Linked DNA regions of Homo sapiens: regions 1, 2 and 4 are each linked to region 3. The links come from fine-mapping of genetic effects on gene expression. A gene starts in region 3. Each other region holds a variant in brackets. All regions are shown on one strand. Distances are between the middles of the regions.

Region 1 (2,617 bases), 45 kb before region 3:
AGACTATTCCAGACAGCAGATGTGAAATCCTGGGAAGAGGAGCACAGGCACTGCAGGAACACAGAGGAAACCAGCCCAGTTGCAGCACAGAGGGAAGGGATGGCGGCATAAGGTGACAGAAGTCAGAAGCCAGGTTCAAGAACACGGAGCACCCTAGTTCACAGCCACAAGTGTGTCCTTCTCAGAGTCTAGAGATGCACTTGTGCTGGCAGTCCATGGGGGCCTGATGGATGCTAAAGTGCATGCGTCAGCACGGCCTCCCTCACTGTGCACATTCCACAGACAGGAACATCAACTGCTGCATAAATATGGCACATTTAGGGCTTAAATAATCTCCTGTTACTGTCACCTGGACTTCAAACTGCCTTTGGTCCACAAGAATCAGGCATATCCACTCCAGAGTTCCCTGTCCATGCCAACACATAGGCTCCAGCTTCCCAATTACATGGAAGTTGGAGTAGTGGCCCCTTCGGGGCTCAGATAGAGGGGAGGCACAGCTCCGGCAAACACAGAGCCCTTTACCTTGAGGTCATACTTGCGATGCACAGTGAGCCGATGGCTGAACACGTTCCTGGTAACCACCATGTAGGTTTCCACACCATCCACGGTCAGGCGGTACATGCCCAGGAACTGTGGCAAAAGCGTGTTGCCATGACACTCCACTATAAACTAGAATGGAAAGGAAGAAGAGAGAGGACTAAGGAACAGGCAGTGCCAGGGATGGATGGGGCTCACCCCAGACTAAAATGCTCCCTGGCTCCCTGGGATTCTAACCTCTAGACCAGTAGTTCTCCAGCTGGGTTCTATGAAGTAATAGGGGTTTCTCAGGCTTAAAATGGGCAACAGCCACCTCCAGCCTCCTGTTGGCATGGCAGAGGGAGAGGCAAGCTGAGCAGGTGGCTCAGAGCCCCTGTGGGTTCATATTATTAGTATCTCACCTAAGATTTTGTTTAAAGTAGGATTCTACCACAGGAAAATCCCTGATCCACACCTTGCATCTCTTCTGCCAGCCTGATATGGGAATGCCGCAGGGAAGAGACAGGATGCAGAGGCAGGCCAGGGATCCAGCCATCTGGGAGAAGAGAACAGCTCCATATCCAAAGCTCTTATCCATGCCATGCCCCAGGGTTTCTGCCATAACTCCTGAAAGACCAGAAGCTCCCTTCGGCCCTTCTCAGGTGCCCCAGAAATGAAGACCCAAGTAGGCTGAGGACAGACACACAGATGGTGCCACGGGGCTCCCTGCCT[TC/T]CTCATGGACAGGTTCCAGATGAGTGGAGAGATGGGACGGGAAAAGAAACAAGCCTGCCGAGCTGAGGGGGCCTCTTTCAGAAGAAACGGGGCGGATGCCAGTGCGTGAACACTTTCCAACTGGGAGTCAGTCAGCGATGAGCCTTCATGGCTCCTTTTTTCTTTTTTAAAGTAGGCATTTCAGCTCACAGAAATACGGTTGCAGGAGAGTCCCACTGCTTGGTGATCAGAAGCAGCTGCCATTACCAGAGAGGACCAACCCCTCCCTAAGAAGCTCCCCCAGGGCTCTCTTCTCCCTCTTCCAACCCATCCTCTGCAGCCCAGGCTTGGGACTCACCATACCTGGTGGTATTTCTTTAAGATGTTGTGCATCTCCGCCACGTCCTCGCTGGACACAGTCTTGATGACAAAGCGCCGGTCGTAGGTGGTGAGGAAACGCGTGCCACACCGACCCTGGCTGTCACTGTTGATGGGGGCGCTGCGCGTCACTGAATTCTGATAATCGAGACAAAAGAAGGCTGGGCTTGGCAGGGGAACAGAATTCTGACTTTCGCTGAGTCTTCCCTCAGGGGCTGGACTGCTTGAAAGCCAACAACACTGAGATAGAGGGACTCCCAGATGGGAGTTTACCCTCCCCTTTTCTCACAGGGTGTTCACATCCCTCCCTAAGTCTTCCTCCAAAGTGACAAGAATTGTTCCTTACCACCTGCTCTTCATCCCAGTCTAGGATGGGAAGAGGACTGACTGTGAAAGTTTCCATCCTGATCCCAGATAGCTATCCTACCAACTAAAATTCTGCCTCTGATGGAGGGGGCTGAGTCTAATCTGGACTCTCACACGCACTATGACCTTGGGTGAGCCATTTAACTTCTCTACCCCTGCATTTCCTCATCAGGAACACAAAGATGCAGACTGAGCTGATTCTCCCAGTCTCTTGGGGGTAGCAAAGATGAAGCTTAGAAAATACTGTCTTCAAGGGGTCTAGCACAAAGAAGCAATGCCCATTCGTCTCTTGTCCCTGGATCTACCCTAATGCTGAAAAACCTTCCCCAAAGCAGGAAGCTGATCCTCATCTCTGAGCCTGACACCTTTCCCCTTGCCTCAACCTCCTGCTTGTCTATGCAAGGCTGGGAGGCAGTTTTGGGGAGCTTTCCTGGCTGTATCCCTGCTCCTCCTCAAGGTCCTACTCCCATTAGGATCAGAGAGCAGTAGAAGCCTTAAGAGGGAGGGTGTGGGAAGGCGTGAGTCAACCAAAGGGATATGTTCACCAAGCAGATGCCAAGGGACCTCTGGGAAGCAACGGTGAGGGGAGATCCCAAGTGTCCCTGTTCCCAAGAAAACATACATGGGGATCATGTCACAGAAATG
Region 2 (2,500 bases), 24 kb before region 3:
GGTACGGCCCGTCCCGGGGAGGCAGCGGCCGCCCCGCCCGCCCCTCCTCCCCGGGCCTGACAGAAACCCGCCTGGCCTCCGAACGCCTCGGGGCCCCGTGCCGGAGCCGGAAGGGGAGGAGGGCTGGGCAGGCGTCGCTGTGGACCGCGGGAGGGGCTCCCCGCCCGGGCCCCCCAACGCCAGGGTTTGGCTCTTTCCCGCAACCCGAATGCCAAGATGGCGGCGATGCCACCGCTCCGGAAGGGAAGGAGGGACGGGAATGCGAGGAGGGCGGGACGTACCATGCCCACCCCGGGGGAGAGGAGGGACGCAGCAAGGGGAAGAGAAAGTCCAGCCTAGAAAGCCAAGGAACGCCCCCTCGCTCCACCTAAGCGTGGATCTGCCCACTCTGCTGGGCCCCGGGCGCGCTCCACCCGCGGGGCACGCCCCTTGCCCCCAGGGCCAATGAGAGAAGCAGGCCAGGAACACTGGTTTTTATGAATGGGCCCCGCGCCCACCCACCTGCTGCCTGTTCTCCCCGCAAAGGGTCAGAGCTCAGAGGCCGCCAGCACCTTCAGACACCTATCCCACTAATCGTCTTACTCTGGCTCATTTCGTAAAATCTTTGAGTAAACTGCCCCACGCTTTGTTACATAATTCTCAGATGAGGGATCTCCATATATTCGACACAAATTACAGGTCAACGTTGTTCTTTCTGCATGGAAATTCGTAAACACGGTACTCCACAGGTGGTCGCTCTTTAAACAGTTACAAAAATAAATGTGGCCTTTATTACCAATTATAAAATAAACATAATTAACCCCGGCATAATGAAGTGATTAAATGAATAAAAACGTATGTTACATTCTCTAGGGAAAGATCGGGTTTCAAGCATTACAGTGCCTGGCATCATAAGTGTTCAAAAACAGAAATCCAAATACATTTTAAGCAGAATTAGGAATTAGCAGAACAAGGAAATCGCCCAGCTAATGTGCGGGTCAAGAGGGCCTAGGAGTTCACTGGTCAAATGAGGGCTTCTGGTGAAAGAATAGAGAAGGGAAAAGGAGTAAAGACAGGAGAGTGGCCCCTCGAGGGTTTTGTTTTGTTGCTGTT[G/A]TTTTTTGAGACGGAATCTCGCTCTGTCACCCAGGCTGGAGTGCGGTGGCACAATCTCGGCTCACTGCAAGCTCCGCCTCCTGGGTTCACGCCATTCTCCTGCCTCAGCCTCCCGAGTAGCTGGGACTACAGGCGCCCGCCACCACGCCCGGCTAATTTTTTGTATTTTTTTAGTAGAGACGGGGTTTCACCGTGTTCGCCAGGATGGTCTCGATCTCCTGACCTCGTGATCCGCCCACCTCAGCCTCCCAAAGTGCTGAGATTACAGGTGTGAGCCACCGCGCCCAGCCTGTTTTTTGTTTTTTTTTTAGTACCTGACTGAAAGAGACTAGCAAACAACTCCTGAAAATCTGTAATTGTAGTAAGGTTACTACACGGTAAGAAGTGAAGCCGCAAAATAAAAACTTCCATTTTATTTTCCTTTAGGAGCCATGGAGCATATTGGCAATTTGGTTCTGACTCCTAAAATCATTTTACTATACCTTTACACTGCCTACATTGGAGACTGCAAGCAGTGGAAAAGAATAGATACTCCAGATCTCGTCGATAAACCCAGGCTCCTCCTAAACCAGCCAGATTCAGAGAGAAAAACGAGCTGGCCTGCCTTATTGTATTACTTGCCATCAAGGTTCAATGTGGTTCTATTACCCAGTAAAGTCATTGACCAAACAAGGTATTTTCACAAAGCTAACCTTTTTTAAAAGCATGTAAAAATTGTACATTTGTACATATACGCATTACAATTTTACATCCAAAGATCAAATAGTTAACAGTTCATTTAGGGCTTTTTGTATTGTTTGATTTTCCAGATTCTGTCACTCCCTTGGCTTTGACCTAACCTGACATCATTCTGTCACATTATCTTCTAAATCAAGTAAACGTTCATTTGTCTCAGTAAGCACAATCTATCTGGGTGACACCAGAGAGGTTTCTGAAGGGTCTGGTGTACGCTGAGGCAGTGAAATAGGTCTGTTGGCACAGGTAAGAAGGAAGTGGCATGATAAACATCACAACCCCAGGGAACAGCCTTCCAGAGTGGCACAAGCACTCCCACCGAGATGGTCCAGTGCCCACCCGTTAAAGAGTCAAAACCCAAAGTTACTGAGTGTCCCACAAAGCAAGTCACACTAGCTCTCAAAGGAAGTGAGCTGTTTCAGGACTCAATGAAGCAGGGTCACTTTGAACACTGGTGGTTTGACATCTGTGAAAGAAGTCATTTGAACTCTTATAAAGAGAATTAAGGGGTCAGCAGCTTCCCTGGAAAATGCAGGAAAACCAATAAGAGAGGGGACAGTTTTCATCTTTTCATAAAGTTCTTCTCCAGAGCTACCGAAGTTCTCTGTAAAGAGTAGATATTCCGCTTCACCCGATCCTCCAGGGAGGAAGTAGATGCACTCTCCAGCTTCAT
Region 3 (2,617 bases):
CCGTCCATCCTTCCGTCCTTCCTCCCTCACTCCCTCCCTCTTTCTCCCTCTAACCCTTCCCATCTTGTCCTCCCTGCCTCAAGCATAGATTATTTTGCTCCCCAGGGAGAAAATCTTCTGGAGTCATTTTTGGCTGTCACAACTGGTGGAGACGGGTGTTAGTGGATAGCTCCAGTCTAGTGGCTAGAGGCCAGTGATGCTGCTAAACATTCTACAATGCACAGGACAGCCCAACTACCACCACTACCACACACCCCCAAAGAATTATCTAGGCCAAACTGTCAAGAGCGCTAATGTTGAGAAACCCTGGATTAGAGCTTTCCTGTCCTTAAATGCAGTTATGTGAAGAATACACTAAATTGGATGAAACTAGATGGAGTCCTGGCACTCACTGTGATTGAGAACACATGACAAACTAATAGGTTTACTGGGCAGGCGGCTAAGCTGATCTACTTGCTGGTTCAATTAGCTCCACTTTCCGGAGGCTAGCATTTTCCCAACCTTGCCCCATGCTCTTGTGGGTACATTTACCCTATTTGGGGCCTTAGCGCTTTACAAATGAACGTTTCAGTTTAAGAGACATTGCCACATAACTTATATTAAGTGGTATGAATTCAAAAGCAAGCTCTGCCACTACAGATCAGAATCCAGCACTGAAGGAGGTGTGGAAGTCAGAAAGATGGACAGGAAGATCCCTTCAGGCTTAAAAAGGACCCCAGGGCCGGGCGCTGTGGCTAACCCTTGTAATCCTAGCACTCTGGGAGGCCGAGGCGGGCGGATCACTTGAGGTCGGCAGATCGAGACCAGCCTGACCAACATGGAGAAACCCTGTCTCTACTAAAAATACAAAATTAGCCGGGTGTGGTGGCGCATGCCTGTAATCCCAGCTACTCGGGAGGCTGAGGCAGGAGAATCGCTTGAACCCAGGAGGGAAAGGTTGCGGTCAGCCGAGATCGCGCCATGGCACTCCAGCCTGGGCAACAAGAAACTCCGTCTCAAAAAAATAAAAAATAAAAAACGACCCCAGGGCATGGCTTAGGGTAGGGAGAATGGGGCACAAACCACCCCTACTTCAGTCCAGGACATGACTCTGAACTCTCACCCAAGGAAGAGAGGTGTGTGGCAAGACAAGATATACAAAACAAAGTGTGGTGACACGTCCTCCATATCTACCTCCTTTCCTAGCCATGGCTCCATCCGCCCCCTCCCCGGTCTTCCCAGAATTTACAGCCGGTAGAGCCGCAGTCAACAAACACGCAAACACCACCTGTCACTGTTCGCGACACACCTCGGACTTTCCCAAATCTCAGTCCCACCCCTCCATTGCCCTAAGGATCCATCCCCTCTTCAGGGCAACGGCCTCCTCCCGGCGAAAGCAAAGCTGCGTTGCCATGGTTATCCACTCCTTCCTCTACCCCCACCCCCTGCCAATTTCCGTCCCGGCCTCAGTCCTCCCCCGCCCAGGCCTCCCTCCACTCACCAGGTCTCCGCCCCCCATGACGGTGGAGACGATTCCTCACTACGCGGATCTGGAAGATTTCGGGAGGATCAAGAGAAAACGTAGAGAAATAGTTCGGGGGCTACCTCGCGGGATCTAGTCCCAGGAGCCGTCAACTGCCAGTTTCACCACCGCTCTAGAGGTCACTTCCGGGAGGGCGTCATCTCACCGCGTCGGCGTCGCGGAACGATGACGTACAGGGCTCGGTCGCGCTTTGTGACGTTGGCGTTACTTGCAGATTTTGCAAAGGTCCGGGCTCCGCTGTCGAGGCCTTTGCTGTCGAGGTCTCATTTTGGCTGCTTCGGGTCGCCACGTTGCCTGATGTCCCAGACTCTCTGTTGAAACGCCACAACTCTGTTCAGTGATGGGTTGCCGTGGGCCTGTGCCCACGGCTGTGTTGCCATGGCAGCTCACCAGGGCATTCGGCTCAAAGCTCCACGTAGTCTCTGCTAGACCTAAGGTGGACCAGACTAGGCCTCCTCCCCTCACCCTGCACACACCCCCACGCTCCAGTTTTCCAAAACGGCTTTGCAAACTGGCGCTTTCCTCAGACCTTGACTCACAGCAAATCCCCTTATGCCAGGCCTATTTTACGAAGCTAAATAGAAACCATCAAATCGAAATTCCATCAGCTTCCGTTTGCCAAACTTTTAAAATCTGCCAGCTTCCACAGTGGCAGATTTTCCCATAGTGGGAAGCTGGCAGATTCCTTTCCCTTCAGTTACTATGTGTTTTTGGCATGTTTTTCTTTTTTCTTTTTCTTTTTCTTCTTCTCCCTTTGTTTTTGTTTTTTGAGAAGGAGTTTTGCTCTCCCAGGCTGCGGTCGAAGCTGACTGCAACCTCCGCCTCCCGGACAGCAATTCTCCTGCCTCAGCCTCCCAAGTCGCTGGGATTACAGGCGCCCGCCACCCGCCCGGCTAATTTTTGTATTTTTTGTAGAGACAGGGTTTCACCATGTTGCTCAGGCTTGTCTCGAATTTCGACCTCAAGTGATCTCCCCGCCTCAGCCTCCCAAAGTGTTGGGATTACAGACATAAGCCACCGCGCCTGGCTATTTTTATTTTTGTAGCAACAGGGTTTTGCCATCTTACCCAGGCTTGTCTCAAACTCCTGGACTCA
Region 4 (2,617 bases), 30 kb before region 3:
GGGCAAGATAAAAAGACAGGTAAAGGAGGTCAGTGGCTCACGCCTGTAATCCTAGCACTTTGGAAGACCGAGGTGGGCAAATCGCTTGAGCCCAGGATTTCGAGACCAGCCTGGGCAACATGGCAAAACCCCGACTCTTCAAAAAATACAAGTGTTAGTCGGGTGTGGTGGCATGTGCCTGTAGTCCCAGCTACTCGGGTGGCTAAGGCAGGAGAATCACCTGAGCATGGGGAGGTAGGGGCTTCATTGAGCCGTGATTGTGCCACTGCACTTCAGCCTGTGCAAGAGCGCGAGACCCTGCCTCAAAAAAACAAACAAAAAAAAAAACAAGAAAGAAAGAAAATGTATGGACAGAACAGAACTGGGGTGGAATGTAGGAGAGAAATTGAGCAGACTAAAGAATAAATCTGTCCCTCACACCATACCCAAAAGTGAATTCAAAATGGATTACAGACTTAAATGTAAGAACTAAAACTATACATACTCCAGCACTATTCACAAGAGCTAAGGTGTGAAAACAAATCCATCAACAGATGATAAAGAAAATGTGGTATACATATACAACAGAATACTATTCAGCCTTAATAAAAGAAGGAAATTCTGCTATGTGCAACATGGATGAACCTTGAGCACCTTACGCTGAGATCAGCTAGTCGCAGAAAAACATATATTGCATGATTCTCCTTATATAAGGTTTCAAAACAGTCCAATTCATAGAAACAAAGAGTAGAATGGTGGTTGCCAGGGGCTGGGGGCGGGGGAAATGGGGAGTTAATTGGTAGGCATAAAGTTTCATTCAAGCGAGATGAATACGCTCTACAGAGCTGCACTATGACACTGTTCCCATGGTCATCAATAACATAATCGTACACTTAAAATTTTGTCATGAGAGTACATCTTATGTTAAATGTTCTGACCACAATACAATTAAAAAAAAAAAAAGAAGAAGAAGAAAGAAAGAGCTAAAACTCTAGTTGGGAGGATTGCTTCAGGCCAGAAGTTTGAGAACATCCTGGGCAATACAGAGAAACCCCAATTCATTAAAAAAAAAAAAAAAAAAAAAAAGAGCTAGAACTATAAAACTTTTAGAAGAAAACAAAGGAGTAAATCTTCATGACCTTGGGTTAGGCAATGTCTTCTTAGATATAACACCAAAAGCACACACAACAACAACAAAAAAGATAAACTGGACTTTATTAAAGTTAAAAACTTGAACTTCAAAAGATACCATAAGAAAAATGAAAAAGGCAGGCCAGGTGCAGTGGCTCACGCCTGTAATCCCACCACTTTGGGAGGCCGAGGCGGGGGGATTGCTTGAGGCCAGGAGTTCGAGACCAGTCTGGCCAACATGGCAAAACCCTGTCTCTACTAAAAATACAAAAATTAGCCTGGTGTGGTGGCGGGCACCTGTAATCCCAGTTACTCAGGAGGCTGAGGCAGGAGAATCGCTTGAACCCGGGAGGCAGAGGTTGCAGTGAGCCA[A/G]GATCACACCGTTGCACTCCAGCCAGGGCGACAGAGCAAAACTCCATCTCAAAAAAAAAAAAAAAAAAAAAAAAAGAAAAATGAAAAAGACAACTCAATGAATAGGATAAAATATTTGCAAATCATATATCTGATAAGGGACCTGTATCTAGAATATAAAAAGAATTCTTGTAACTCAATAATAAGAAGATAACCCAATTTAATAATGGGCAAAAAGATCTTTGTAAATGGGCAAAAAATTTAATAGACATTCTCCAAAGAAAAGATACCAATGAAGGCTGGGGATGTGGCTCATGCCTGCAATCCCAGTCCTTTGGGAGGCCAAGGCGGGAGGACCACTTGAGGCCAGGAGTTCAGGACCAGCCTCGGCAACAAAGCGAGACCCTGTCTCTACAACAACAACAAAAAGAAAATGTACAGGCCAGGCACAGTGGCTCACACCTGTAATCCCAGCACTCTGGGAAGCCAAGGCAGGTGGATCACCTGAGGTTAGGAGTTTGAGATCAGCCTGGACAACATGGTAAAACTCCATATCTACTAAGAATACAAAAGTTAGCTGGGTGTGGTGGCAGGCACCTGTAATCCGAGGTACTTGGGAGGCTGAGGCAGGAGAATCGCTTGAACCAAGGAGGCGGAGGTTACAGTGAACTGAGATTGTGGCACTAAACTCCAGCCTGGGCGACAGAGCAAGACTCTGTCTCAAGAAAAAAAAAAAAAGAAAAGAATATGTACAAATGGCCAGTAAGTACATGAAAAAATGCTCAACATCATTAGTTATCACAGAAATGCCAATCAAAGTCACAATGAGGCCGGGTGCGATGGCTCATGCCTGTAATCCCAGCACTTTGGGAGGCCGAGGCAGGTGGATCACCTGAGGTCAGGAGTTTGAGACAAGCCTGGCCGACATGGTGAAACCTTGTCTCTACTAAAATAAAAAAATTAGCCACGTGTGGTGGCAGGCATCTGTAATCCCAGCTACTGAGGAGGCTGAAGCAGGAGAATTGCTTGAACCCGGGAGGTGGAGGTTGCGGTGAGCCGAGATTGCACCACTGCACTCCAGCCTGGGTGACGGAGTGAGACTCCATCACAAAAACAAACAAACAAACAAAATCACAATGAGATACGAATTCACACC

What was found. PIP is the estimated chance that this variant, and not a neighbour inherited with it, causes the effect. A credible set is the group of variants that fine-mapping cannot tell apart.
Region 1: its variant is the best candidate, but not a certain one, in a credible set for the expression of CWC25 in blood mononuclear cells (TOPMed, PIP 0.80).
Region 2: its variant is the best candidate, but not a certain one, in a credible set for the expression of CWC25 in whole blood (TOPMed, PIP 0.57).
Region 4: its variant is the best candidate, but not a certain one, in a credible set for the expression of CWC25 in whole blood (INTERVAL, PIP 0.63).

What each region holds. Positions count from the first base shown.
Region 1 is chr17:38,778,861-38,781,477 of GRCh38, forward strand. PIP4K2B (phosphatidylinositol-5-phosphate 4-kinase type 2 beta) reads right to left here. Exons shown (of 10, transcript NM_003559.5): 4 at 1,592-1,744; 5 at 523-669. Among named protein-coding and RNA genes, the nearest start is that of PIP4K2B, 19 kb to the right of the region's middle. The variant TC/T (reference allele first, on the strand shown) is at 1,249.
Region 2 is chr17:38,799,703-38,802,202 of GRCh38, forward strand. CWC25 (CWC25 spliceosome associated protein) reads right to left here. Exons shown (of 10, transcript NM_017748.5): 10 at 739-2,500. The coding sequence ends at 2,390. Among named protein-coding and RNA genes, the nearest start is that of PIP4K2B, 1.4 kb to the left of the region's middle. The variant G/A (reference allele first, on the strand shown) is at 1,093.
Region 3 is chr17:38,823,686-38,826,302 of GRCh38, forward strand. CWC25 (CWC25 spliceosome associated protein) reads right to left here and starts at 1,636. Exons shown (of 10, transcript NM_017748.5): 1 at 1,481-1,636. The coding sequence starts at 1,498. MIR4727 (microRNA 4727) reads left to right here and starts at 2,153; the gene lies at 2,153-2,207. RefSeq lists an enhancer at 344-975.
Region 4 is chr17:38,793,568-38,796,184 of GRCh38, forward strand. The region is part of intron 1 of PIP4K2B (phosphatidylinositol-5-phosphate 4-kinase type 2 beta); the gene reads right to left. Among named protein-coding and RNA genes, the nearest start is that of PIP4K2B, 4.7 kb to the right of the region's middle. The variant A/G (reference allele first, on the strand shown) is at 1,483.